4 linked regions of the Homo sapiens genome follow. The protein of the gene in region 4 interacts with the protein of the main gene of each other region in a biochemical or structural test. Each region holds a gene or a part of one and is shown on either strand. Other genes may lie near its edges. The genes, in order: DAPK1, ATRIP, MCMBP and MCM3.

The links.
Region 1: of the proteins of MCM3 (region 4) and DAPK1, one has a biochemical effect on the other in vitro, tested with the Homo sapiens proteins (one study listed by IntAct).
Region 2: the proteins of MCM3 (region 4) and ATRIP form a complex in vitro, tested with the Homo sapiens proteins (one study listed by BioGRID).
Region 3: the proteins of MCM3 (region 4) and MCMBP form a complex in vitro, tested with the Homo sapiens proteins (one study listed by BioGRID).

Annotation. Positions count from the first base shown.
Region 1 is NC_000009.12:87,696,858-87,703,887, reverse strand, and holds part of DAPK1 (death-associated protein kinase 1), read right to left. Parts: intron 6,882-7,030; coding exon 6,684-6,881; intron 5,233-6,683; coding exon 5,094-5,232; intron 3,772-5,093; coding exon 3,651-3,771; intron 860-3,650; coding exon 671-859; intron 1-670. UniProt on the Homo sapiens protein: Calcium/calmodulin-dependent serine/threonine kinase involved in multiple cellular signaling pathways that trigger cell survival, apoptosis, and autophagy.
Region 2 is NC_000003.12:48,449,736-48,456,765, reverse strand, and holds part of ATRIP (ATR-interacting protein), read right to left. Parts: intron 6,730-7,030; coding exon 6,596-6,729; intron 6,274-6,595; exon of another isoform or gene 6,191-6,273; intron 5,038-6,190; coding exon 4,867-5,037; intron 2,467-4,866; coding exon 2,348-2,466; intron 1-2,347. UniProt on the Homo sapiens protein: Required for checkpoint signaling after DNA damage. Required for ATR expression, possibly by stabilizing the protein.
Region 3 is NC_000010.11:119,828,918-119,834,851, forward strand, and holds the end of MCMBP (mini-chromosome maintenance complex-binding protein), read right to left. Parts: intron 3,184-5,934; coding exon 3,095-3,183; intron 2,684-3,094; coding exon 2,557-2,683; 3' UTR 523-2,556; downstream 1-522. UniProt on the Homo sapiens protein: Associated component of the MCM complex that acts as a regulator of DNA replication.
Region 4 is NC_000006.12:52,274,731-52,281,760, forward strand, and holds part of MCM3 (DNA replication licensing factor MCM3), read right to left. Parts: intron 6,945-7,030; exon of another isoform or gene 6,823-6,944; coding exon of another isoform or gene 6,811-6,822; intron 4,870-6,810; coding exon 4,631-4,869; intron 4,121-4,630; coding exon 4,012-4,120; intron 2,959-4,011; coding exon 2,805-2,958; intron 2,469-2,804; coding exon 2,337-2,468; intron 1,747-2,336; coding exon 1,538-1,746; intron 1-1,537. UniProt on the Homo sapiens protein: Acts as a component of the MCM2-7 complex (MCM complex) which is the replicative helicase essential for 'once per cell cycle' DNA replication initiation and elongation in eukaryotic cells.

The sequences.
Region 1 (7,030 bases), on a different chromosome or scaffold from region 4:
AAACACGAAGGCACTGCCCCCGTTCCTGGGACAGGCATATGATGCCATTAGAACAGGGTTTCCAAACCGCGCCCTGGTGCTCAATGTCACAGAACCAGAGCAAAGCCTCCCATTCTCAATCATTTCTGCTGGGCATTGCTTGCTAGAGTTTTTTAATGTGCATCTTTAATTATGATTACTCTGTGTATCTGTGCACCAGAGTTCTCTGTCTTTGTATCTCCAGACATTGCCTCCACAAGGACACCTCACTGCCTTTTCTCAACTGTTTTCCCACCCAGGAGATCTGTGTGGAGCTGATGACTCCACGCTGATACAAAGAAGCCATCCTGAAGGCTGCCAGGAGTAGCAGATTAAGTTCCTGGTGCCCAGGGGGAGTGAAGAGAGACCCAGTCACCCAGGGCAGTGGGCACTGCACTCCCAAACTAACAGACTCTGGAAATAAAAGCAAAACACGACAAGACAAAATGACAGCTCCTAAGGTGAGCCGAGAACTGCAGTTCAGAGCGTCACTTGAGGCTGTGTTTGTCACACGTGTGGAAATGTTGTAGGTTAGCTGGACCATTTCCACACTGCTTCCCCAGGCTCACACCACTTCCAAGAGCTGGAATTTGGGACAGGCTGAGTCCCTGGCACCTCTCACGGCCCCCTGCCTGGGCTCCCAGGGGCTCACCTCGCCTGTGCTGTGGAGCTGCTGAGCAATGCGCCTGAGGTCCTCCTCGCTGGCCAGGGGGTTCAGCTGGTCCTGCACGTCGTACACAAACTGCTGCAGCGACATCAGCTGGTTGGGTCCATTGAGCTTCCTCCAGGAAGGCAGCGTGGAGATGATTTTCTCACACAGGTGAGTCATGGGAGGACAGACCTAGAGGGGGCAGGGCCAGACAGGTTAACTCACCTGCAGCTGTGGGTGCCCTGAGCAGAGCCACAGTGGAAAGGACACCTTTCATTCAGGCGCCTTGCAGGTGATTTGATGAACGAGTGGGTTTTTTTGTTGTTGTTGACGTTTTTTTTTCTTTTTTTAGACTGGGTCTCGCTATTGCCCAGGCTGGTCTCAAACCCTTGGGCTCAAGTAATCCTCTTGTCTCAGTCTCCTGAGTAGCTCCGACTACAAGTACACACCACTGTGTCTGGCTAGTTTGTGTTTTTTGGGTTGAGTACTGGGGCAGTTGTCTTTTAGACTTGCTTTTAAGCCTCATCTATTGCTCAAATATAAAGTTTTATAAAGGCTCTTTAGTTCATGTTAAATAGATTTTGAGTCTTCTAGGAACGTTTTTGGAATTGTGGACTCAGTCACTCAATCAACTAATGTTCACCAACTCCTAATGTTTCACTCCCTCACTTTTTCCTCCCTCCCTCCTTTCTTCCCTCGCTCTCTCTCTCGTGACTGTTTCACTCAGGCAATGATCACTTTATGAACAGAGGAAAAGAGAATGAGTATCATCATCAATATTAGAGTGAGTGTTTACCAGTAAATTAGGCATTCGTGGGGACTGTTGTTGAAATATTGTTTCCAATTAGACCCATTCTTGGTATGTAGGCTGAAGTGGATTTTTAACCTTTTAACTTGGTTAATTAGATCAGCATATGTTACAGACTCACGTAATCCACATACCTCTGAATTAGAAACCACATAAGCCACAGGCTACACCGTGCCATTAATTCCGCACTCCCCTCTCAAATTCTTTTGTGTCAGCTAAATTCCACTCTGCATTCAAAAACAAAATTCTCAGGGGTGAGTGCAGTTGATGTGGTGGGCTCCACCTGCCTGAGCTCAGGAGTTTAGGGGTTGGGCGGGGGGTGTCTGAGAAGCAGCAGATCATGCCAGAGCCCAGCTCAAAAATCTCCAGGGACACTCCCTCCTGCCTCAGGAATGCAGCCTCAATCCAGACCTGGTGGGGAAGCACAGGGGCCCTCAGAGACCACTGTTAGTTCCCAGATCACCGCCCCTGGTTTCTGTGACAGATTCCTCCCAGGCCTCACCGGACTACCCCCTATCTTCTGATGATGCCACAGTGGGACCCCAACGAGGATATCTGGTGTGAAGGGCAGGGTTTTCTGGAGACAGGAAAGGGTTTCCCGAGAATTCTGGAAGCACATCTAGAACCAGAATCTGGTGCGGGAAGCACAGCATTTTCTTATTAGCAAAGCAGTTAAAAAAAAAAAAAAAAAATACACCCAGAGGCAGCTTCAAAGGTAAGAGAGGGAGACAGGCATCTGCCCGCATTTGTCCTCAGGCCTCGGCAGCAGGAAGACTCCAGAGTGAATGCCACCACTTCTCCACTGGGACGCTCGCCCTTTTCTTACCAATTCCGGAGAGCTTTTTGAACATTACGGTGTGACCATTTATCTGTCCAAAGCATTGAGAATGCTTTTTCCCAGCCTATTTCACCTTTCAACTTTGTTTACTTAATTTGTTTGCTAGAAAAAAATTTTAAAAATTTTTACATTTTCAAACAGGTATATTTTCTTTTAAAATTTCTAGGGTTTTAGATCTTGGTTTAACAGGTTCCCTCAGTCCCTAGTTATTTTGAAAATACACTCTCCACAATTTCTATTCAAGGTATTTATTGTTTCATGTTTTTACTTAAAAGCTTTAATCCATTTATTTTTGGACTTTGTAGGGTGTAGGAATCCAACTTTATTTCCTTCCAGACAAATAGCCAGTTGTGCCAGGTTCATTTATTAAATAATCTTTACCCCATTAAATTCAAATGACATATTTATTTTCCATTATATTTCTAAAGATATTATGATTTACTTCTATACCCTCTAAGCTTTTCCTCCTATTTAACTGTATTGATTATCAGGGGCTTTATAATAGGTTTAATGAATTTTTCCATGGAAATTTTAAGATAAAAATCCCAATCCCCTCAACCCATTCAGATGCTAACTGAAATTGTATTACATTTATATAACTAGGGAAAAATAAAATAGTCATATCTTGCAACCCAAGAATACAGTCTCATTCCCTTTGTTCATTTATTCTTTTCTGTCTTTCAAAAAAGTTTGTGACTGTTTTTCTACTTTTCTGAATTTTCTAAATATTCCACAATAAGTCACTTTTGAATTTTTTGGTTTTTTCCCAAAATTGGCCAGGCATGGTGGCTCACACCTGTAATCTCAGCACTTTGGGAGGCTGAGGTGGGAGGAGCACCTGAGCCTAGGAGTTCGAGACCAGCCTGGGCAACATAGTAAGACCCTGTCTCTACCAAAAAATCAAAAAAATTAGCCAGACATGGTGGTGCGTGCCTATAGTCCTAGCTACTTGGGAGGCTGAGATGGACAGATTGCTTGAGCCCTGGAGTTCAAGGTTACGGTGAGCTATGATCACACCACTGTACTCCAGCCTGGATGACAGTGTGAGATCCTGTCTCTGAAAAAATAAAATAAATAAATAAAATATTGTTAAAGAAACCAATAAATCGGTAAGAATTTCATAAAATTGAAGTGGTCCACCTTGCCCATAATAACCCTTCAGCTCCCATCATCTCCTTGTTTCTCTATTCTTCCTTTCTTTTCCCAGGGCACTAGGATAAAGACATGTCCAGGCAGACACCTCTTACTGGGTCCTACTATGAAGCAGTTCCCTGAAACCAGAGGCAAACCAGGAAGGAAGTACAAAGGGGTCCAGGCTCTTTCCATGGTGTACTTACCGAAACAATCTGGCTTCGTATTTCTTGCAGATGATTTCGAAGTACCTTCATGTCCTTTGACCCAGAAGCCCCAGCATCCAGAACAAACAGCTTATTTGAAATGTGAAGATCATTTCCAAACCTAAGGGAAGAGCAGCAGCCTCCTCAGCAGTGAGTCAATGTCCCCAGGCCTTTTAATGGAGGGGCCAGGCTCCTACTGGCTCAAGAGGCTGGTAGGAGGGAAGGAAAGTTCTGGTGTCCTTGCAAAGGCCCCTCCCCATCCCTGCTGTTGGTGGGCTCTGCCTCATCACAGTGGGTGCAGAGACTTGGGGAAACTGGCATATAGTCTGAGTCATAGGAGCGGGACCTTCAGGTTTGCATGAAGCAGCAGGAGCACAGCATGGAAAGATGTCAGCTTCTCCCGAGGCAGGAAAGGTGAGGCCTAATGCTCGCACCTTACAAGTGAGGACAAGAGATACTGTGGAAAGTGGAGGGACTAAGAATAGAGGTGTGAATGCAAAAGCTACATCACTGACCTAAAAATATTAATAGAAGCCCCATTTTTATATCTGGCAACAGATATAGTGTCTCAAGACAATAGATAAATGTCTCAAGTTGATAATGCAAGATCAGAGATACTAGCATATTATAGAAAGCTGCAGGTTCAAACTGTTTTGATAGACTCTGAGTAAAAACATATATTTTACATCATAATCCTGTACATACCCATACTCATCAGTGAAACAAACGTTTTACAAAATAATACTTGACATCTGATCTATCCTATCCTGTCCTGTCCTTTCCTGTCCTATCCTATCCCATTCCATTCCATCCCATTTTAAAAAGAATTGGCCACGACTTCCTAAATGAATTTTAAGACTCACTAGTAGGTTGCAACTTATATTGTAAGACATACTGATTAGTGTTTCTGAACACTGAATACTGAGTACTGAAATCTAAACAGCTAAAAGAAGTCACCTCCGGGCAGTGTTGCTGGGAGGTAGAAAGAAGGGGGTTGCTTTCATCACGTGCTCTTCATTTGTATTTGATTTACTATGTGGATTCATTGTTTTAATAAAAATGAAAAATAAAGGTTGTGCATCCCTAATCCAGAAATCTGAAATGTTCCAAAATCCAAAAACCTTTTGGGCAAAGACAAGACATGCAAAGGAAATGGTTATTAGAGCATTTCAGATTTAGAATTTTTGAACTAGGATGTTCAACTGCTATGTATATGTACATATATTAAAATCCAAACAAATAAGAAATCAGAAACACTTCTAAAGCCGATCATTTCCAATAAGGGATACAAGACCTGTACAAGAAAAGAGTTGACCAAGAAAGAAAGACCTTTAAAACCTTTCTCTGGTTCATGAGACTTCCTTTGTACTTTTCACACCTCTGCTTCAGTTCTCAGGGAGAGGAGGCTACCCGTGAGCTGGAGACTAAGTGGCTGCCCCTCACCTGTTCCTAATCTCTTTCAGCAACGATGTGTCTTTGTCATATCCAAACTCGCCTCCAGCCGGTCGAGGAACATTCATGATGTCAGCGTGGGTGGCCACCAGGACAACTTGGAGTGGGTTCTTCAGCTTGCCACCGAAGGCTGGGGGCAGAGAGGGAACTGCTTCAGGGGGTGGGTCCTCCTACCTGGCTGCCTCTCCTGCCCAGGTGAGGGCGGTGTGTTGGCCTCATGCCCAGGCCGACTCTCCAGGTACAAGTGCAACATGCCACAGAGATGAAGGCCCCACGCCTGCTGTGCACTGTGACCCTAGAAGGCCCCAGCATGGCCAACGACAGGATAAGCCTATCTCCTAGGCCACAAGGAAAATTGCTCAAAGTGGACCAGAATGACTAAAGGCAGTTTCTCAAGTCTCCAAATAGCCCCTACTTACAAGGAGAGGGAAAATTTAACCTGTGACAAAAGGGATGCCGCTTACAAGACCAAAGAGAGACGCCTGAGTGCAGCAACACCACAGAGATGGGTCAGAGGTAAATGACCTGCAAGTCACACAAAGAGCCTCCCACTTCGGGGAGTGTTTAAAACAAAGGAAAAAAAGGACAAAGAAAGAGGCAAAACTGGCAGTACCCAGAGGGGCATTAAGCCCAACTCCTTGTATTATATGCTTTTCCGGAAAGAAAAAAAATTGACTGCTGAGTATTGCATTTCACCAGGGAAGGCTGCTTCTCTTGTTGTGGGCAAAGACCAAAGGAAGTTTATTTCATGTTATCCTCTCCTCTAGGAATAAAGTTAAGATAACACATTCAGTCAACATGCTCCCTTTCTTCATTTCTCTCTCTTTTTTTTTGAGACAGGGTCTCACTGTGTCACCCAGGCTAAGTGCAGTGGCACGATCTTGGCTCACTGCAGCCACAGCCTCCCAGGTTCAAGCAATCCTCCTGCCTCAGCCCCTGAAGTAGCTGGGACTACAGGCACATGCCACCACACCTGGCTAAGTTTTTGTATGTTTTGTAGAGATGAGGTTTTGCCATGTGGGCCAGGCTGGTCTTGAACTCCTGAGCTCAAGGCATCTGCCCACCTTGGCTTCCCACAGTGCTAGGATTACAGCCGTGAACCACTGCACCCGGCCTCTTTCTTTGTTTCTTAGTGGAATTACAGGATGAAGAACTGCTCATTCTGCTGACTAATTCTGTACCCTTTAGGTAAAGGTGCAGTAGCTATCCAAGCAGGGATTCCATTTTGCACCCAACATACAATGACCATGGCTCTCAAGTGTAGAAAAAAAGTGAGAAATGCCTCTCAAAGGATTGTTCAAAGTGGGCCTTTGAGGCAGGAATATGCAATCATGAAACAAAAACAGCCTGCAGAATACCACGAACACTTGAGCCTCATGAAGCTTCTCAGAGTGGAAGTCTCCCAGCAGGAAGGAGAAAGGAAGTTGGCTCAGCTGTTAGCCACAAACGGTGGGATCTGCTCATGGCCTGGTGCAAGGCCAGCAGCAGCAGTGGCAGGAGCAGGGCAGAAGCCTGGAAGGAGGAGGCGATTCCTGGCCAACCACAGGTAGGACATCACTGGCCTGCAGGGACTTAGCTCACCTATGGGTTCTTCAACTGGGACAAGGGACTTCAGGAAACTGAGCCAGAAAATCACTTGGTTCAGCTGGATCTCATAGGGCTCTTCTAGACTAAAGACAACAACATGGATTGACGTGGGATCATTTGCAGCAAAATAGTCATAACAGCAGAAATACACAGGATTTCCAGAGAACTCCCACACGCTGAAATCGCCAACTCCTACAGAAAAAGAAAAATGATAACAATCGTGAAACACCACTAACCAAATTTCAATCATAAATTCTCTTAGCGTTCCACGGATTCGAAGTAGGCATAGTGATACTTATGGCATTCTTCTGTATGTGTATACATCTTGTTATGACTTGGGT
Region 2 (7,030 bases), on a different chromosome or scaffold from region 4:
TCTTGTTCCATTGCCCAGGCTGGAGTACAGTAGCATGATCATAGCTCACTGCAGCCTTGACCTCCTGGGCTCAAGCAATCCACCCATCTGTAATCCCAGCCTCCTGAGTAGCTGGGATTACAGGCACACATCAACATGGCCAGCTAATTTTTTTTTTTTTTTTTTGGTGAGACAGGGTCTCACTCTGTTGCCCATGCTGGAGCCCAGTGGCACAATTACGGCTCACTGCAGCCTCCACCTCTTGGGCTTAGTGATCTTCCCACCTCATCCTTCTGAGTAGCACAGGGACTACAGATGTGCAACCACCACATCTGGCTAACTTTTTATTCTTTCTAGAGATAGAGTTATTTCTAGAGATAGAGTTTCACCATGTTGCCTAGGCTAGTCCTGAACTCGTGGGCTCAAATGATCTGCCCACCTCAGCTTCCCAAAATGCTGGGATTACAGGCGTGAGCCACTGGGGCCAGTAATTTTATTTTTTTTTTAAGTAGCAATGGGGTTTTGCTATGTTGCCCAGGCTGGTCTCGAACTGCTAGCCTTAAGCAATCTTCCTGCCTTAGCCTCCTGTGTAGCTGGGATTGCCTCTGTAGCTACCATGCCTGGTGCAAAACATCTTTTCAATGTGGAACAAACTATTTTTTTTTCTGGAATGGAGTCTTGTTCTGTTGCCCAGGCTGGAGTGCAGTGGTGTGATCCTGGCTCACTGCAACCTCTGCCTCCAGGTTTGAGTGATTCTCCTGCCTCAGCCTCCCAAATAGCTGGGATTACAGGCGCATGCCACCATGCCCAGCTAATTTTTATATTTTCAGTAGAGACAGGGTTTCATCATGTTGGCCAGGTTGGTCTTGAACTACTGACCTCAAGTGATCTGCCCGCCTCATCCTCCCAAAGTGTTGGGATTACAGGTGTGAGCCACTGCACCCAGCCAATGTGGAACAAACGATTTTTTAATAGTCACAAGACTTCCAGGCTGGGCACAGTGGCTCACCCTTGTAATCCCAACAATTTGGGAGGCTGAGGTGGGTGGATCACCTGAAGTCAGGAGTTCGAGAGCAGCTTGGCCAACATGGTGAAATCCCATCTCTACTTAAAAAAAAAATACAAAAAAACTAGCCTGGTGTGGTGGTATGTGCCTGTAATCCCAGCTACTTGGGAGGCTGAGACAGGAGAATCACTTGAACCCGGGAGGTGGAGGTTGCAGTGAGCTGAGATCATGTGACTACACTCCAGCCTGGACAACAGAGTGAGACTCTGTCTCAAAAAAAAAAGACTTCCAATAGAATGCAAAGACTTTAAATAGAAAAAGGGCTATCAAAATAAATATCATAATTTTGATAAACCTACTAGGTATGTTGAAAACTGAGCAACTTAGTGCCAATGTCTTTATGGTAGAGAAGCAGTATTAACTCTCTGATCTGATCATATAATGCTGAGGTCTTTCTGTTACTGATGTGTGAAGAGGATCCCCTCAGTTCTCTTGTCTTATGTGGACAATGCAAGGCATGGAGAGTTCAGTTTCACACACTGCCCATTATGAACAAAGGCGGTAGAAAGTTCAAAACCAGAAGATGCCCTGACTGACACTGTTCAAATTTCCAGGCTGCGCCAGGCACAGTGGCTCATGCTTGTAATCCCAGTAGTTTGGGAGGCCCAGGCTGGCAAATCATTTGAGTCCAGGAGTTTGAGACGAGCCTGGCCAACATGGTGAAACTCCGTCTCTACTAAAAATACAAAAATTAGCTGGGCGTGGTGGTGTGTGCCTGTAGTCCCAGCTACTCAGGAGGCTGAAGGAGGAGAATTGCTTGAACCCAGGAGGCGGAGGTTGCAGTGAGCCGAGATTGTACCACTGTACTCCAGCCTGGGTGACAGAGCGAGACTCTGTCTCAAAAAAAAAAGAAAAAAAAAACAAGTTGAGCACATCTGACCACAAAGGATGGGGCTGTTGGACAAGGGTCCCCAGAAAGCAAATGAGAAAAAAATATTCCAAGTAGCTGGAACTAAAATACACCCATGCTTGCAACAAAATCAGTTAAACAAATTACATAAAAGTAGAGACTAGCCCACCCCCAAAATTTGGAGATCATTTTTCCAGGTCTTTCTAGTCCTGAAGAATTATGTTTATAAAGTGCCATACAGAGGCAGCATTTCTAGAGTATAGGCCTTTATGCTGTGATGTCTCAAACCATGCAAGCTTCATCTAAACCACCTCTGAATCCTTCAGGAAAAGAGGATCTCTGCCCAGGTGGAGGGGTCTAAATGGCCTTCATTTAGGACCAGCCTGACACTGTTATGCAGATTTTTTACTAAATAATGCAAAACTGAACTATCCCTCCAGCACCATCATTACCTGACATGGGAAACAGAGGGAGCAGCCAGTTTATTTGCTCGTTCACTGGTCTGGAGCTTTGTCCTTAATTCATTCATCTCTGCATCTTTAAACTGGAGTTCAGACTGCAATGATTGGAGCTGGAAGGCAAAAGAAACATGCTTGTAGTGGTCCCATCATATACACAAAAATATCTCTGGGCTTCAAAATCACAAGCCAGTAAAAGACAAACAATGAAAAATACATATGAAAGTCTGCTGTGACATAAATGTCCTAAAATATTAAACATTAGCTTTCTTTCTGAAAGACAATATGGTACTCTAAAAAGATACTGGACTCTATTGTAAGGGTAGTTTGTGAGGGTTTAAATACCAGCCCTGGCCGGGTGTGGTGGTTCAGGCCTGTAATCCTAAGCACTTTGGGAGGTTGAGGCGGGAGGATCATTTGAGCCCAGGAGTTCGAGACCAGCCTGGGCAAAATAGCAAGATCTTGCCTCTACAAAAAATTTAAAAAATAAAAAAAAGAATTAAATACCAGCCCACCATTTATTTAATGTCTTTGAATCCTAACTTATTTGTAACATAAAACACCTGTCTTCATGATAGTTGGGAGGATTAAGTAGAATGATGAGTGTAAAATACCCAGCATAGAGCTTGGTAAGGTGCCCTATGTCAGCAGTAACATATTGACCTTTATTAACGAACGCACTGGTGCACAATTCCAGGTCTTCCTCAAAGTTTGGGCAGAGTAGTTGGAATAGTTTACCAAGACACTGTGCAGTATAGAGAGACCTGCTGCTCTGGCCTGCAGTTGCTACAGCCAACAGTAACTGCCATCATTCCCCAAGCACACTCTGCGCCAGGCCCAGCACCAGACACAGTAAGTGCAAGAATGTGTGAGTCTCCCAACAACCTTTCTGGTTATGTCTTGGAACAGATAAGGGAAATGAGCCAGGGAGCTTAAGTTATTACCTTGAGGTCACTGCTTATGTGTGATGAAGCCTGGATTCAAATTCAGGTTTGTCTGACCGCAAATTCCTTGCTCTTCATCACTTATACAGAAAGTTAACTATTGCGGTTAATGATGGGCACAGGTAAGTGCTTAAAGTTTGCTAAGTTTGCTGAATGAAACAATGAGAATAAGATCCCATGTCCTTGAGATTGAAGCATGAGGAGGTGCTGAGGGAAAGTTGTAGTAGGTACTGGATACCTACTGTTTTTCCTTCCAGAATAGCATTTTCCTTTCCCTGAGAAACAGGCTGGGCATTGTGGCTCACGCCTGTAATCTCAGCACTTTGGAAGGCCAAGGTGGGAGGACTGCATGAGCCCAGGAGCTTGAGAACGGCTTGGAGAATACAGCAAAACCCTGTCTGTACCAAAATTTAAAAATTAGCTTTGCCTGGTGGTGTGTGCCTATAGTTCCAGCTACCTGGGAGGCTGAGATGGGAGGATTGCTTGAGCCTGGGAGGTCAAGGCTGCAGTGAGCTGTGATTGCACCACTGCACTCCAGCCTGGGCAAGAGAGTGAAACCCTGGACCCTGTCTCAAAAAAAAAAAAAAAAAAAAAAAAATTCAATAATTTCCCTACCTCTGACTATTTTATTAGAATGGGAGCTGTCATTTTTTTGCTTTTGGTTGCTTTTGGTTATAGCAATTGGCCAGGGACAGACAACTGACTCAAGTTAAACCAATCAGAGCCTTTCTCAGAATTTTAAAACTTGAGATGAGGGAGCCTAAGTCTTTTTTTGAAACAGGGTCTCGCTCTATTGCCCAGGCTGGAGTACAATGGCATGATCATGGCTTACTGCAGCCTCAACCTCCTGGGCTCAAGCAATTCTCCCACCTCAGCCTCCTGAGTAGCTGGGACTACAGGTGCACACCACCATGCCTGGATAATTTTGTTCATTTTTTCTTTTTCTTTTTTGTGGAGATGAGGTCTCACTAGTTGCCCAGGCTGGTCTCGAACTCCTGGCTCAAGTAATCCTCTCACCTCAGCCTCCCAAAGTGCTGGATTATAGGTGTGAGCCACTGCATGTGGCCCTAAGTCTTAATTCTGCTCTGTATTTATAAAATATGAGCCCAGGAGCTTCTGGAGAACACACCCTCTACCATAAGTATAGAGCCTGTTTATAGCATAGAGAATAAAAATGTCCTGGCAAGATTTAAGTCATTTAAGGTCCCAGCATACCCCGGTTCTTCCCAGACTTGGATATGGAAGCCAATACGTTTCCTTTTAGCCTAAGCCAGGTCAGTTGAGTTTCTGATCTAGCAAAAGAGCCTTAATGTAAACCTGTTTCTAGAAATGCTAAGCTAGTTATTTACTCCTGCCAAGACCAACTACCACAGCAAAATAGAGTTTCATCTAAATCCCTTTCCAAAATATATCCAGACCCTGGAAGAAGAGTGGATGGCAATGAGATGATAGCAGAAAGTATTTAAGACAAACAAGTGTTGAAATCTCCCTGGAAGATTTACAGGCAACCCTGGTCAAAGGAACTCAGTGGGCAGGCAAAGCTGGTGCAAAACAAATGCTCTGGGTCACCTTTTTGGAGAATTCCTTTTCCTTGTCACTGAGTGCTTGGGTTTTCTCTTGCTCAAGAAGAAAATGTGATCTTCTCTGTTCCTCTAGAACGGATTCCGTCTGATGTAGTGAGTCTCGCAAAATTTTAATTTCTCCATTCTTAATGAGAACTTCTTCTTCCATTACTTTCATCTGTAAATCCCAAATTAATCTCGTGAAAACTTTGTAAGAGAAAACTACTTAGGTACTTTGTTTTAACATGTAGTTGGGGAGATGGAGAAAGCACAGGAAAAACAGACAAATGAGTACTCAAAATATATCCACAGCAACCAGATGTCACCATGGTCTGCTAGGCCTGTTCATGGGACAGCTGATATTCATCAAGATAGCTTAAGCATACACTTGCCACTCATGCATGCAGATTCTTTTTGCCAGGGAGGGGGATGGGGTTGCTTAGGCTGGAATGCTGTGGCACAATCATAGCTCAATGTAACCTTGAACTCCTGGGCTCAAGTGATCCTCTCGCCTCAACCTCTTGAGTAGCTAGGACTACAAAGCATGTGCCACTAGCCTGGCCAATTTTCACTTTTATCTGTAGAGACAGGGTCTCATTGTATTGCCCAGGCTGGTCTTGAACTCTTGGGTTCAAGCGATTCTCTCACCTTGGCCTCCCAAAGTGCTGGGATTACAGGCATGAGCCACCTTGCCTGACCAGATTCCTTTTTTTTTTTGAGACGGAGTCTTGCTATTGTCGCCTAGGCTGGAGTGCAATGGCACGATCTCGGCTCACTGCAACCTTCACCTCCCAGGTTCCAGCAATTCTCCTGCCTCAGCCTCCCGAGTAGCTGAGATTACAGGTGCCCGCCACCATGCCTAGCTAATTTTTGTATTTTTAGTAGAGACGGGTTTTCACCATGTTGGCCAGGCTGGTCTTGAACTCCTGACCTCAGGTGATCCACTGGCCTCGGCCTACCAAAGTGCTGGGATTACAGGTGTGAGCCACCGCGCCTGGCCGGATTCTTTAGGCTCTAAGAGGCATTAACGATCTGGGTCGCTGGGTGTGGTAGCTCATGCCTGTAATCCCAACACTTTGGGAGGCTGAGGCCAGGAGTTTGAGACCAGCCTGGCCAACATGGTGAAACTCCGTCTCTACTAAAAATACAAGAATTAGCTGGGCGTCGTGGTGCACACCTGTAGTCCCAGCTACTCTGGAAGCTAAGGCATGTGAATCGCTTAAAACCAGGAGGCAGAGGTTGAAGTGAGCCAAGATTGTGTCACTGTACTCCAGCCTGGATGACAGACTCCATCTCCAAAAAAAAAAAAAAAAAAAATCTGGGTCACATACCTTGCACAACTAAAATTCCACATATTCCTGGTTTTCTTAGGGACCTACAGATGGTGATATGAAGTGTCTGCTTTCTTGCAAAGCTGCTAATGAAAATAGCAACCATTATGAAGTTGTATTATTCACATGAAGATACATGCTATAAATTCATCTTAGTACCCTAACAGTTTGTATCTCTTTTTGGATCTGGTATACAGTGTTTTTCTTCTTGCCTTTGGCATTAGGAATCTCACAATTTAGTTTCTTTCAGCCTAAACTTTCTGGTTTTCTTTCCCTAGTCTTTTCCCATGTCATAGGGATGAATCTAGACACTTGTTTTACAACTTTTGTATATTTTACTGTACAATGCTTTTAAACACGTAAGTGAATGAATTAGCTACAAAAACCACAAGTTAAGTCACTTACCTTTTCTTTAAGTTCTTTGTATTGTGCCTGAAGTACCTCTAATTCGAAATTATCTTTAATTGGAACAGTTTCTCTGTTTTTCCCTGAAGGATTTTTTGACATGCCATCTAATAATCTGTGGACCTTATGATCACCTGTAAAAAATAGTTCCATATACATTTCAGGACCCAATATTTTCCCACTTTTGCCAGAAAATGCTGAAAATACCCACTTTTTTTTTTTTTTTCTTTTTTGAGATAGGGTCTTGCTCTGTTACCCAGGTTGGAGTGCAGTGGTGTGATCACTGCTTACTGCCACCTTGACCTCCTGGGTTCAAGTGATCCTCCTGCCTTAGCCTCCTGTGTAGCTGGGACTACAGGTGTGTGCCACCATGCCTGGCTTTTTTTTTTTTTTTTTTTTTGGATTTTAGTAGAGATGGCGTTTCACCATGTTAGC
Region 3 (5,934 bases), on a different chromosome or scaffold from region 4:
GCTGCCCCTGTAATCCCCACAGTAAGAAAGTTGTATGGCATATTCCAACAAGTATTGGTTCGTCTGGTGTCTTTAGAGCTTTACTCTGTTGAAGTGACTGATTCTCAACTGAACATTATGTCGTTACTTTGATAAGCATTCCACTTTTGTTATTTATTAGTGCTATCTTTTTTTTTTACGTGTTAAATCTTGTGATTATTAAAATAAAGTACCATTGTAATTTAAAGTGACAAATGGGTATGAGAATTCCTTGCATAACAGATTAAAGAATTTGTAAACGGCAGATTTGCTATAACTGAACACTTGGTCTAGCTGTTGCCAGTATGTTACTCCTTTGAAATATACTCATGATGTAAAAAGGGAAATGGATCAGAAACTATACTTTAAATCCAAACATTCAAAACTGAATGCTTGCTTCTACCAACTTTTCTTCCGGGTCCTGAAAATATTAAGGGTTCCCAACATGGGAGAAAATACAACCCAACATTAGGTGATAAAATACACGTTTAAACTCTACAGAAATTAGTTCGAAAGAGATCTTTGAAAAATCATTTTAAGAAGGCAAAGTTCCAAACAGGGTTACACAGGAGTCTACTCAGTTTCCTGGCCATACAGGATTAACGCTGTGCCTTACGTTAGAGCAACAAACTTGACTGTCCGTGTATATATAGGTGAGGGACAAAGGGTTTCTGCAGCCAAGCACTGCACTCCATTCCGCTGCCTGGGCGGGCCTTGAGCAGGAAGGTCCCTCTTGCACCACCTCCTCCACTTCAGTTCAGCTCTCTCATGTCTTCCACCAAGAGGACATGGTCTTTTTCCACACAGATCACATGGGATGGTGAATCTTCTTACTCATGAAAAACAGCCCAAGGTACTGCTAATTTGGGACGTTTTATTTATTGGAAAGGTTCTTTCAAGGGAACTTTTCTGCAAGACCAAGCAATGTATGTATTTTTCTTTGGTAAATTACAATTTACATTGGCACAAAAAACACATGGTGACTAATGTACTTTGCTCTAGGACAATTAAAGAAAATGTATTTTATCCTCACAAATCCAGTGAAGCCTTCATTTTATTTCTAAAAGTTTAAGGAAGGTCTAGTCTACCAGTTATAAAAATGAAAACCAGTTCAACTCTAATATAAACATTATTTACATTTGTTTATAAAAATAGATTTGAGTTTAGGAAAAGTTGAACAACTAGTTATTTTTACTTCAGTTATTAGGTACAATGAATTCCTTGATTTTTCAAGGCTGACCCTGTTTCCTTGGTTAACAATTTCAATTTAGGCCTTATAGGAAAAAACGTAAGGGATCCTTTATCTGCCTCCAACTAGGTAAGTTATTTGATACCACTGACAGCTTAAAAAGTAATGTCCTAACCTTTCTGAAGATTCTGGTTGCCATAACCATGCTACTACAGTCTGTTGTTAGTTTGCTCTATTAAAACTAATTGGTCTGGAGAAAACCTACCTGCAGTTGTACGAGGCTGTTACTGGAGTAGCAGATGTTAGCTGATCTAACATACTTGGAACCAACTGATGATCCCATAAAAAATGCCAAAAATCCAATAGAATCAAAGCAACTCAATGACATTTAAGAAAATAAAAACTTTCTAAAGGGGGTATTGCTTTTTAAGTTTCCTATTTTGTTTTCATATTTGGGCACAGCTTTGTAGCACAGCATTCCCTTATGCATGGTTCTCAAATGCACTGGGATAGGAGAAAATAAAGACAATGTAGTGTCTTGGTTTCTTTTGCCCCCAAAAGCCACATTCATTCCGTTTAAAGGACTCCTCTTATTCAGAGATAGATTGTCCTTTCCTTTTATGAAAAAAATGGTGATAATACAGTGATTTATTCGGATTACTTGGCAAGGTAAATTGGCAACCTTATAGTACCCCAGATTTTTGGAAATATTACTACCGGTCCATAAAATACAAAAGTCTGGGAACCACTGCCATGTACAAGTTTAGTTTTGCAGGCTGTTAACAAATGTTAAGTGGGAAAAAGTTTCTGTGGCCAAACATCTGGGAAATGACAGTACAGAATTTCATGTAGTCATGTGAATCAATGGCAAGTACGCCTCCGTTCCCCAAAGATGGACTACTGAATGCACCCCAACCCACTGTGAACTGGAAAAACAGAGAACTAGAAAACATAAGAAATCCGAAGCACGATTCCTCTGACTTTGAAACTGCAACAACCTTCTTCATTTCAGCATTTCAACAGTCTGGCCTATGACTCAGCTGAAGCTAAGGAAATGGTACAATCAGCAACATTATCAATATTAAACTTTTAATATCAAATACTTTTTTTACATCATTACTAATTTATATAATTATTATAAAACAAACTTCAAAAGCTCCATGAAATCAGTAAGGTAAAAGTCCTTACTGAATATCATATAAACATCAGGTGTTACCAGGCTTGATTTCAGGAAATGTCACTGGTTTGTGATAGAAATTACCTATAAAACAATGTGGTATAAATGAATATCTGAATTTTACAATTATGTGGCTACAGTTTGCCCATTACTCTTCATAGGTATTACATCTTTAAAGTTCATTTCCATTCACACATTTTTGCTGCTGAAGCCTCGTTCTTCTTAAAGACTCTAGCTGCTTTGCTCTCAGCCATCGTTCTCTTGACAGCGTTGTCTGACCAGCACTGAGAGACAGACACCTGGTTTGAAACACAGAAACAAATTTAAGTCTAGAGCTGGGATAGTAAGTTTTAAATTTTTTTTAAGACCTAGGAATACTTTGTGAAAACACAGAGCACGTTAGGAGACAAGACCGTATGGTAGTTACACACAAGTCAACAGCCAAGTTAGGCTTCTAAAAAGAAATCGTTGAAGAGTCAGAATTGGAAAGTGGCTCACTCTTTGAAGCTTAGAGAACAAGCAGCATGCCTGTTCCACTGAAGAGATCACCAGCCAAACTCGATTCCCCCTCAATGAGCCCTTTCATACAGCGTTTTTAAAAGGAAAAGTTCATTTCCGTTTTTAGAATTCTGCCTCAGTTACTGCTGAATAACTCAGAAGACATATACACAAGCTTACCGAAACAGCAATAATGGACGTGCGCCACTTACCGAGCCACCACGAGCAGCTGGTGAAGATCATCAGCAGTGATGCTCTGAGGGTCGTTCTTCCGCATTTCCACAAAGTCATCTTCAACTGCCTTTATCAAAAGAGTAAATGTAAATGATGTGCATTTTTGTAAGGAAAAGAAAATTAACATGGTTCCTTGACTGATGTAGTAAGGTGCATGTCAGCCTCTTAGACAAAGGAGGCAATATGGGTGAAAGTACCAAAGCATATACATACATAATGCTGCTGATGAAAATAAAATAATGAAACTCAGATTCATTTAAGGTCAAGCAAACATATAAATCAGCAACTGGCATAGGAAACAATGCTTTTCCACAAAGGAAGAGTGATGTTAGTGAAAATGGCAGAGAAGGGACCGCAGAAAACTGTCTCTACTGTTAACACTGATCAAAATCAGCTTTTTAAAAACTAGAAATAAAACCATACTTGCAGCAATCCAGAGAGCATTTATGCAAGAAAACCAGGTGATTATTGGTAAGAATGTTGAGCCTGGCAGCATTTTAACATGTCCTACTCCTAAATTCCAACCCCTTCCCCTCCAGGCGATAATTAGTAGCTTCAAAAATCAACAGCCTGGCAGCCACCGGAGAGAGAACAGGGCTAGGGCTCCTTCCAAGTGCCATTCCCGGAGAACTGTCATCTGACCACCTGTCTGGTGGCTCCCTGGAAGGACCCATTTGCAAGGTTGTCTTTATTTAACCTGACTGGAAGCCTGTCTACTATGAACCACCTCTTTCCCCAGGGCATTTATCAAAAACAATCGGAAGAAATTACCAATCACCTTAGCTACCTGAGACACTGGGTAACAGCTGCGGCAGACAGACTAACCCAAACCCTTCAATGGAAAAGCTAGCTGGGAAATGACATGTCTGTAGAGGGCTCTGAAAACCTTAAGTATGTAACTCCTAGGAACTCAGAAGGCTGCAGACATGCTCAGAGACCATAGCTCCCACCTCTGCATGACCTGGAGGCTCTGTGCGAGCAGGAAATGAAGGCTAAGGCTTGTAAATTGCATGGCTAAGTGTTGAACTGAGGGCTTGCCCCAACTTTTATTTTTATTTATGATTATTATTCACCCGTAGACTGGGAGACTACTACCCAGCATTTAAGGAAATTTCTTTCCAATCATTAACCACAAAACTAACAGAGCAGAGACTTCAGTGCCCACATGTGACAAAGATACAGACTTTATAGAATTAGTCAAAAAAGTTACTAAACAACCTACCAACAGTAACAAACAGCAACAACAATAAACCCTAGGGAGGTTTAATTTCCAGAGTAACTTCCAAAGCAGAGTTGCCATATTATATAATTTAAAATGTCTGGTTGTGGCTAGATGTGGTGGCTTACACCTGTAATCCCAACACATTGGGAGGCCAAGGTGGGAGGACTACTTGAAGCCAGGAGTTGACCAGCCTAGGCAATAAAGCAAGACCTCATCACTACAAAAAAAAAAAGAAAGAAAAAAAAAGAAAAGAAAAAACAAAAAAACAAAACTTTAGTTGGGCATGGTGGTGCACACCTATGGTCCCAGCTACTGAGGCAAGAGGATCACTTGAGCCCAGCAGTTTAAGGCTGCAGTGAGCTGTGGCTGTGCTACTTACTATTCCAGCCTGGGTGATACAGTGAGACCCCACTGACCAAATAAAATGTCTGGTTTTCAACAAAAAAGTACAAAGAAACCAGAAGGTATGGCTCACACTTTGGGGATAAGGGAGTCAGTAGAAAACTGTCCCAGAGGAAACTCAAACATTAGACAAAAAGACTCTAAATTGGCTATTTTAAACATTCAAAGAAATAAAGGAAACCACATAAAAAGAACTTCAGGAAAATATGAGAATCACCAAATAGAGAGTATCAATAAAAAGAGAGAAATAATTTTTTAGAAGAAGGAAATAAAAATTCTGGAGTTGAAAAATATAGTAAAAATTCTCTAGAGGTGCTCAGATTTGATCAGGCAGAAGAAAATCACTAAATTTGAAGATAAGTTCACTGAGATTAGTCTAAGAAACAGAACAAAAAAAGAAGAATGAGGGAAAATGAACAGAGCCTTGAAGACCTGTGGGATACCATTAAATGCAACATCAGATACACAGTGGTAGTGTCAGAAGGAGAGCAGAGAGAAATGAGGCAGAAAGAAACATGGCCAAAACCTTCCCAAACTTGTTGAAAACTTCCCCAAAATATGAATTATTCTGCACCTCCAAGAAGCTCAACAAACTCCATGTAGGATAAACTCAGAGATCCACACATAGACACATCATAATCGAAACTGTCAAAAGCCACAAAATCTTGAAAGCAGTGACAGAAAAATGACTCAGTGTGTACAAAGGATCCTTATCAGAAACTAGTTGGCTTCTCAGTAGAAACCAGAGGCCAGAAAGTGGTGGGAGGACATATTCGAAATGATGAGACAAAGACTATAAACCAAGAATTCTACATCCAGCAAAACTAGCCTTAAGGAGAAATTAAGACATTCCCAGATAAACAAAAACTTAAAAGAGGGCTGGGCGAGGTAGCTCACACCTCTAATTCCAGAATTTCGGGAGGCTAAGGAGAGAGGATCACTTGAACCCAGGAGTTCGAGACTAGCCTGGGCAACATAAAGAGATCCCCTATCTGCACACACACAAACACACACACACACCCAAACAAAACAAAAAAACCCAAAAAACAAAGAATTAGCTGGGCACAGTGGCACATGCCTGTGGTCCCAACTACTCAGGAGGCTGAAGTGGGAGGATCGCTTGAACCTGGGGGGGTTGAGGCTGCAGTGAGCCATGATCACAACACTGCACTCTAGCCTGGATGACACAGCGAG
Region 4 (7,030 bases):
CAAAAACCCCAATACTCTCCTTTCAATTCTGGGCCTACTGGACTGATACTTACCCATCCACATACACTTCACAGTCAGAGAACATAACAACCTTTAGGTAATAATGATTTTGACCATGTTCACGTTTCAGGTCCTGCCATTTTTCTTGTATTTCCCAATCACTCTTGAGAATGACATAAACATACATTATCATTTATTTTATTTTATTTTACTTTTAAAGATGAGGTCTCACTATATTGCCTAGGTTGGTCTCAAACTCCTAGGCTCAAGTGATCCTCCCACCTCAGCCTCCCAAAGTGCTAGGATTACAGGCATGAGACACTGCGCCCAGCCCTATCATTAATTTTAAAAGCTATGGTTTTCAACCTTGGCTACACATTAAAACCAAACCTGTGGAGCCCTTCTAAACCATAGCTACCAAGAGCTCCAACTCAAGAGATTTTAATTCAGAAACTCTGAACGGGGGACCATGCAACTGTATGTATAAAAAACACCATCGCATCGCAACAAGGTGTTCCCATACACTGTGGGATTGATTATAAACTGCCAGGACACAGCATGAGCTCTGGGCTCAAATCCTGGCTCTGCGATTTTCAAGTTTGTGGCTCTTGAGCAAGTTACATAATCTTTTGTACCTCCATTTTCTCATCTGTAAAATAAAGATAACTACACATTGTGAGGTAGTTACTGATAGGATAAAAGGAGTTGGTAAATACAAAGCATTTATGAGCATTCATTAATAGAAGTATTAATATGGTACAATCTTTAAAGAGGGTAATTTTGCAATCTCTACCAAAAGAAAAATGCACATAACTCTTAATCCAGTAATTTCCTTGCTAGGTATTTATACTACAGATATATTCCCAAATCTATCCACACACATAAAGGGATGGCCACTACAGCTTCATTCAAAATAGGGAGGAAAAAATGGAAACCACTAAATACCCATCAGATGGAGACTAGTTAAATACATCCCTGTGACGGAATACTAGAAATCTATTTTTTTAAAAGGAAAAACTCAACAAACCCCACGCACAGACAAATATAAAAGATTATATCTAGCACATCACAGTCATGGTAAAAACAGAGATAATTCTTAACAAGGAAATAGTGTATTTGCTGGTACATGCTTAAAGTTTTGTTTCCTGCAACACTTCAAAGCTGTTATTTCTTGGCAAAGTGACAGGAGAGAGAAGCAAGTCTTTTCGTTTTCATACTATATACCTGTTCTGTTTAGAAATTCTCCCGCCACATGCATGTAGTCCTTTTATTTAATGGACGGTTAAATATGTTAAATGGACTGTTTAACTGTACTGTTAAAAAGTTACTTTTAAATAAGGAACTTTCCAGGGGATTCTGCTGTGCAGGAATGGGTGAGGAACACTGCTCTAAACAAAGGACAATAACAAGAAAATGGCCTTACTTTTAGTCTTTGGCCTATTATTCCCCTGGGTCACCTAGAATACACTTCTCAGCCCAGTTAGTCAGCAAAACCAAATGAAGGTGAGGACAATGGTTGGGGCCTGATTCCACTTACCCTGCCGTAGACAGGGTTGGCAGCTGCCAAAACACTGCAGCGGGCATTCAGCCGAGCATGGATGCCAGCCTTGGCAATGGTCACTCGACCCTGCTCCATCACTTCATGGATGGCTGTGCGATCCATGTCAGACATTTTGTCAAATTCATCAATGCAAACCACGCCTCGGTCAGCCAGGACCATGGCCCCTGCTTCCAGACGGCGCTCTCCTGGGAAGTGAGAAGGTAAAAATACGTGCTACAGTCTAGGTTATAGGGGCCAGAAGGGAAGGATTTCAATCTCCTTCCTAGGAATCTCTCACTTTGCACGTGAGAATGCGGCAATGGTGTGTTGGCTCCGAGAAACTTAGAGGAAACCCTGGTGGGTCACCTTTTCAGCTCTAATCTAAATATTAATAGTATCTCTTTGTCCCACTTTGACCCCTAAGTAACTAGCTTCTCACAAATTTCCTTCATAGATTCTCTCTTCGGCCTCAACCTCAAGTAATACCCCAACTAGACCTCTGCCTTCTCTTCACTGGTCTCCAAATCCCTTCCTCTAGTTCATAAAATAGTACAATCTTCATTTTTATTTCCTTTCTAATGTGCTAAGACTTAATCCTTTAAATCGAAAACATTCCTGTAAATAGATGAACACCAAAGACTTAAATAATTCACCCACCATTGCTGAATACTCAGTCCTCTATAATCTGGACCCAACTAACCTATCAGCTGTATCTTCAGAACACAAGCCAGGGCACACAAAGGATCTATGCTCAGGCTCTCTGCTGGGCCTTTGCCAAGGACCCTTACACCCTTACCTGTTTCCTGGTCTGTGGTGACAGCAGCCGTCAGACCCACTCCAGAGGAGCCCCGGCCAGTGGTGGGGATAGCTCGGGGTGCAGTGCAAAGCACATACCGCAGAAGCTGAGACTTGGCAACGGATGGGTCTCCTGTAGGGTGGGGGCAGTGATGACTCTCTAGGAAACTCCCCAGCACCCCCAGCAAATTCTGCCTTTCTAGCACAGCTCTTGACACAACAGAGTCACACAGTAAGTGGATTTTAATATTTTTCCTTCGCTTTTCCCTTCACCACTCACGGAAGAATATTTATATACTATAAATCAGGAATTCCAGAGATGACAAAAAAAAAAAAGATTCATTTTAGCCTTTTGTCCTTTGATAGGACTGAAATACTGCTAAGTACAGAATATACAATCTTACATATTATAGGTCTCCACAACCACTCCATCAGAACAACAGTCTAAAGCAAATCCCCAACATCGTACCTATTAGAAGAATATTGATGTCCCCACGGATGTGGCTGCCATTTTCTAGGTCTCGTTCCACCCCTCCCAAGAGCAAGCAGAGGATTGCTTTCTTGACATAGTCATGCCCATGGATACTTGGGGCCAATGACTTGGCCAGCTGGTCAAAGATATCCTACAGGAGAAATAACCAATGGCAAGCCTAGTGAGATTCAATGGGACTTTGTGGAGCTCCACTTTATATACTTTGGCCTATAGAAAATACTTGAAGAGGGCCAGGCGCAGTGGCTCAGGTCTGTAATCCTAGCACTTTGGGAGGCCGAGGCAGGCAGATCACGAGGTCAGGAGTTCGAGACCAGCCTGGCCAACATGGTGAAACCCCATCTCTACTAAAAATACAAAAAATTAGCCAGGCGTGGTGGTGTGCGCCTGTAATCCCAGCTACTTGGGAGGCTGAGGCAGGAGAATCACTTAAACCCAAGAGGCGGAGGTTGCAGTGAGCAGAGATCGCACCATTGCACTCCAGCCTCGGTCACAGAGCAAGATTCCGTCTCACCAAAAAAAAAAAAAAAAAAAAAAAAAAAGAAAATACTTGAAGAAACACACAAACAGGTACATTGTTCCTAACTGCAAAAAATTATTTTCTAAGACAAATTACACTATCAGGCCATTATCAGAGTAGGCACAGAGCAGCCTGGATTCCAAAACTTGTTTAGAGGTTTAATCTTTAAGGGAAAAAAGTATCCCCAGGTTCAAAACATTTTAGGTTTAATAAGAACATGTACTGTGCTTGAACAGTAACCTTTATCATCACACATTCATATATGTAGTTCAATTCTAAATGTGGATATACATCCTATCTTAAAAAGATAAAAACAAGTTGGAGAACTAAAACAAAGAAAAAATGTTTAAGTAGTAATGCATCACTAACGCCTTCAGTAATAAATAGACTTACTGGTACACGGGCAAGTTAACACCTATCCTAATATTTGTACTAGGCTCATTTAGCAGCCCAGCAGGTAGCAGGTATTAAAATTGTTTAATAACAACAGAATTACTAAAGAACAAACAGCAAAAACACCCTTCATTTGTTGATTGAGACAAAAATAGAAAAAGCTAACACCAAACCTCAACCCTTCCTTCTGATCTAGTACAAAAATAGCCATGCACCAAAACACAACTCTTAGAAATCCATTCCCACCCTCAAATTTCTAAAGGATGCCCAGACCTTGGATCGGGTTTTACTGAACTTCTTGATCTTGGCTATATCCTCAGCAGAGAAAGAGGGCTGAGCATCCTTGCTCATCTGCTTAACATTACAGGCAATCAGGACAGTCCTGGGACAAACAGAATAAAGAGGAAACCCGTTATATTCAATTCCTAACATCAGTAGCTAGTACCCCTAGCAGGAGTAAGCCTTTTTAGGCTGCCAAACTAGACCAGCCAATTAGAGTTGGTGGGGAGGGGGCAGGTAGCTATTGTGAATTAAACAACTGGTTCTGTCTGTGATCCAAATATGCTGATCATGCCCCACCTCTGGAATTGACCCACAGAACTTCAGACAGAACTGTGTATGGGGACGAAGTGTAATTAAATGAGAAACTCCCAGGAAAGCCATGAGGCTGTAATCATTGTCACCAATAACTCTCATTTTTGGCATATGATGGTTAAGTATCACCAGCTTTATCTGATAGAAAAGAGGTATTGAAGGTATCCTGTCTCCCAGGCAGGTAGAGTGCTCCACCTATCAGATATAACTCTCTGGAATATGGCAAACTGGAGAAAGGATATTACCAGAAATGGAAGCTGTCAACAGCATTCCATATACTTTAAGGCAGACCCTTTACCTGAAGGTCCCAGAGGTGTAGCCTCCCTTCTTTCCAGGAAGGCAACGGTAGGTTCCCACCACCTGAACCCGGTCACCAGGCTTCGCTTTATCCACCAAGTCATCATCCAGAATGACGTCCACAGAGCGGGGGAGCTGGCCGGCTGGGGCCTTCTCCGGCATCTCCTGGATGGTGATGGTCTGGTGATCCTTGTAGACAGAAAGGCCATATTCTGTCTCAAGGGGATTGTTCTCCTCATCCTAGAAAAAGGCACACAGAGGGACAGAGTGATCTCCGTCCTGTCTTAAAAATGCCACACTCACCTGTCATGGCAAATAAGATGACTTCATAAAATTTTATTATTCAGTAACAAAAAAAGCCAAGTACCTTCTCTAGCTTTTTGTGTTCCTGTCTGTTTTAGTAACAACCATCGAATGGAAGGGGCAACCCATAGTCTGAATGGACTATGGTTATATTAACATCTAAATTAAGATTCTTACTTCCCCTCTAAAGCTGAATATATGCTTACATTCTGAAGCAGTTTTTCCACTCCTAGGTAATACCCAACAGAAACATTCACCCAAAGCCATGCATTGTAATGCTCATAGCAACATTATGCCTAGTAGTCAAAAATTTTAAAGTGTAAAAATGCCATCAATAGTGTAATGGTTAAACACGGTATATTCACATAAATGAATACTATACAGCAATAAAAATGTATGAAACACACCTATACACAACATGGATAAATCTCATAAACACAATGTTGAGCATAAAAAGCCCATAAGTATTTAAATAAAAAACAGCTGAAAGTAATCCATACTGTTAGACATCAGGATAGTGGTTACCCCTAGGTAACATGAGCCCTCAAGAGGGACTTCTGTGTGCTAATATTTCCTCATTTGGAGCTGGTTACACAGGTGTACTCAGCTTGTAAAAATTCATCAAGCTATACACTTATGTGAGCTTTCCTGTACGTATATTAAAGTTTTACTTCCTTCACATTTGAATTTTCTAAAAACACAGTTGTCACTTATTGAGTGTTTGCTATGTGCCAGGCACTGTGCTATTACTTCACAAAATTATCTCATGTAATTATCACAACAACTTTGTAAAGAAGGTATTTTCACACGTCATGCACAAGGAAACCAGGAGACTAGGAGAGATTAAGTAAGTTCCCCCAGGTCACACAGTTAAGTAGCAGAGTCTTGACTTGATACAGGTGTTAACTCCAAAGCCCACGCTCTTAAGCATCACCATAGACAACCTCCAGAAGATCTGGTCCAATGTATTTCACTTTTCAAGTAAAGAAGCTTGGCCACAGTAATCAACAGAAGAGTACTTCCCAAGTACTTCCTGAAGAGGAAATTCTAAAAAAGTGGAGATCTTAAGGTCCGAAGAAGACAACAGAATGACTTAGAAAATACAACTGGCATGAATTAAAGAGACACAGGTCCTAGTCCTTAAGGCCATCACTAACTGGGACCGTAAGCAAATTGTTTAACTTCTCTGATCTCAGCATTTCATCTGGAGGTAGACTAAATGATGCTAAAGTATGTTTAAGTTATAATTCTAAGATATTCATTCGTTTTTGTTTATGTTTCATTTCTCCACCACTGTGAAGACTAATGACGAGGACTGGGTCTTATTTATATCCTTGTCCTCCATAGCGCCTAATAGTGCTTTGAATACAGTAGTTCTCAATTAAAATTTGATGAGGGGAGGAGAGGAATTGTTTGATAGAATCAGTTCAGACATCAAGTAATCCATATAAATGATCTTTTGTCTCCAGAGGAAAACCTTGCATTGTCCTCAATCCAGATCAATCTGAACACCAAGAAGAAAGCATTTTCCTATGCCAACCTGCTCCCAAACCCGCAACAAAATATTTGTAAAGATTACATAACAGTCTAGCATTATTTTTCTACTTTTTAAAAAGCAGATTCTAAAATTATAACGTTGTTAAAACATCTATGTAGATGACTTCTTCTTTTGACTATTCCTTAATTTTCTAAAATGAACAAGTGTTTTCTTAAAAAAATAATAAGAGTTGTGGCTGGGCATGGTGGTTCATGTCTGTAATCTCAATACTTTGGAAGATGGAAGCAGGAGGATCACTTGAGGCCACGACTTCCAGTCCAGCCTGGGCAACATAGCGAGACCCTGTCTCTAGAAAAAAGTGAAAAAAAAAATTAGCGGACCTGGTGGTGCATGCCTATAATCCCAGGTACTCAGGAGGCTAAGGTGAGAAGATTCGTTGAGTCCAGGAGTTTCAGGCTGCAGTGTTCTATAATGGCACCACTGCACTCCAGCCTGAGAGAGACAGATCCCGTCTCTAAAAAAAAAAATAAGAATTGTGAAGCCAGGTGGCGTAGCACATGCCTGCAATCCCAACTACTTGGGAGGATCACTTGAGCCCCG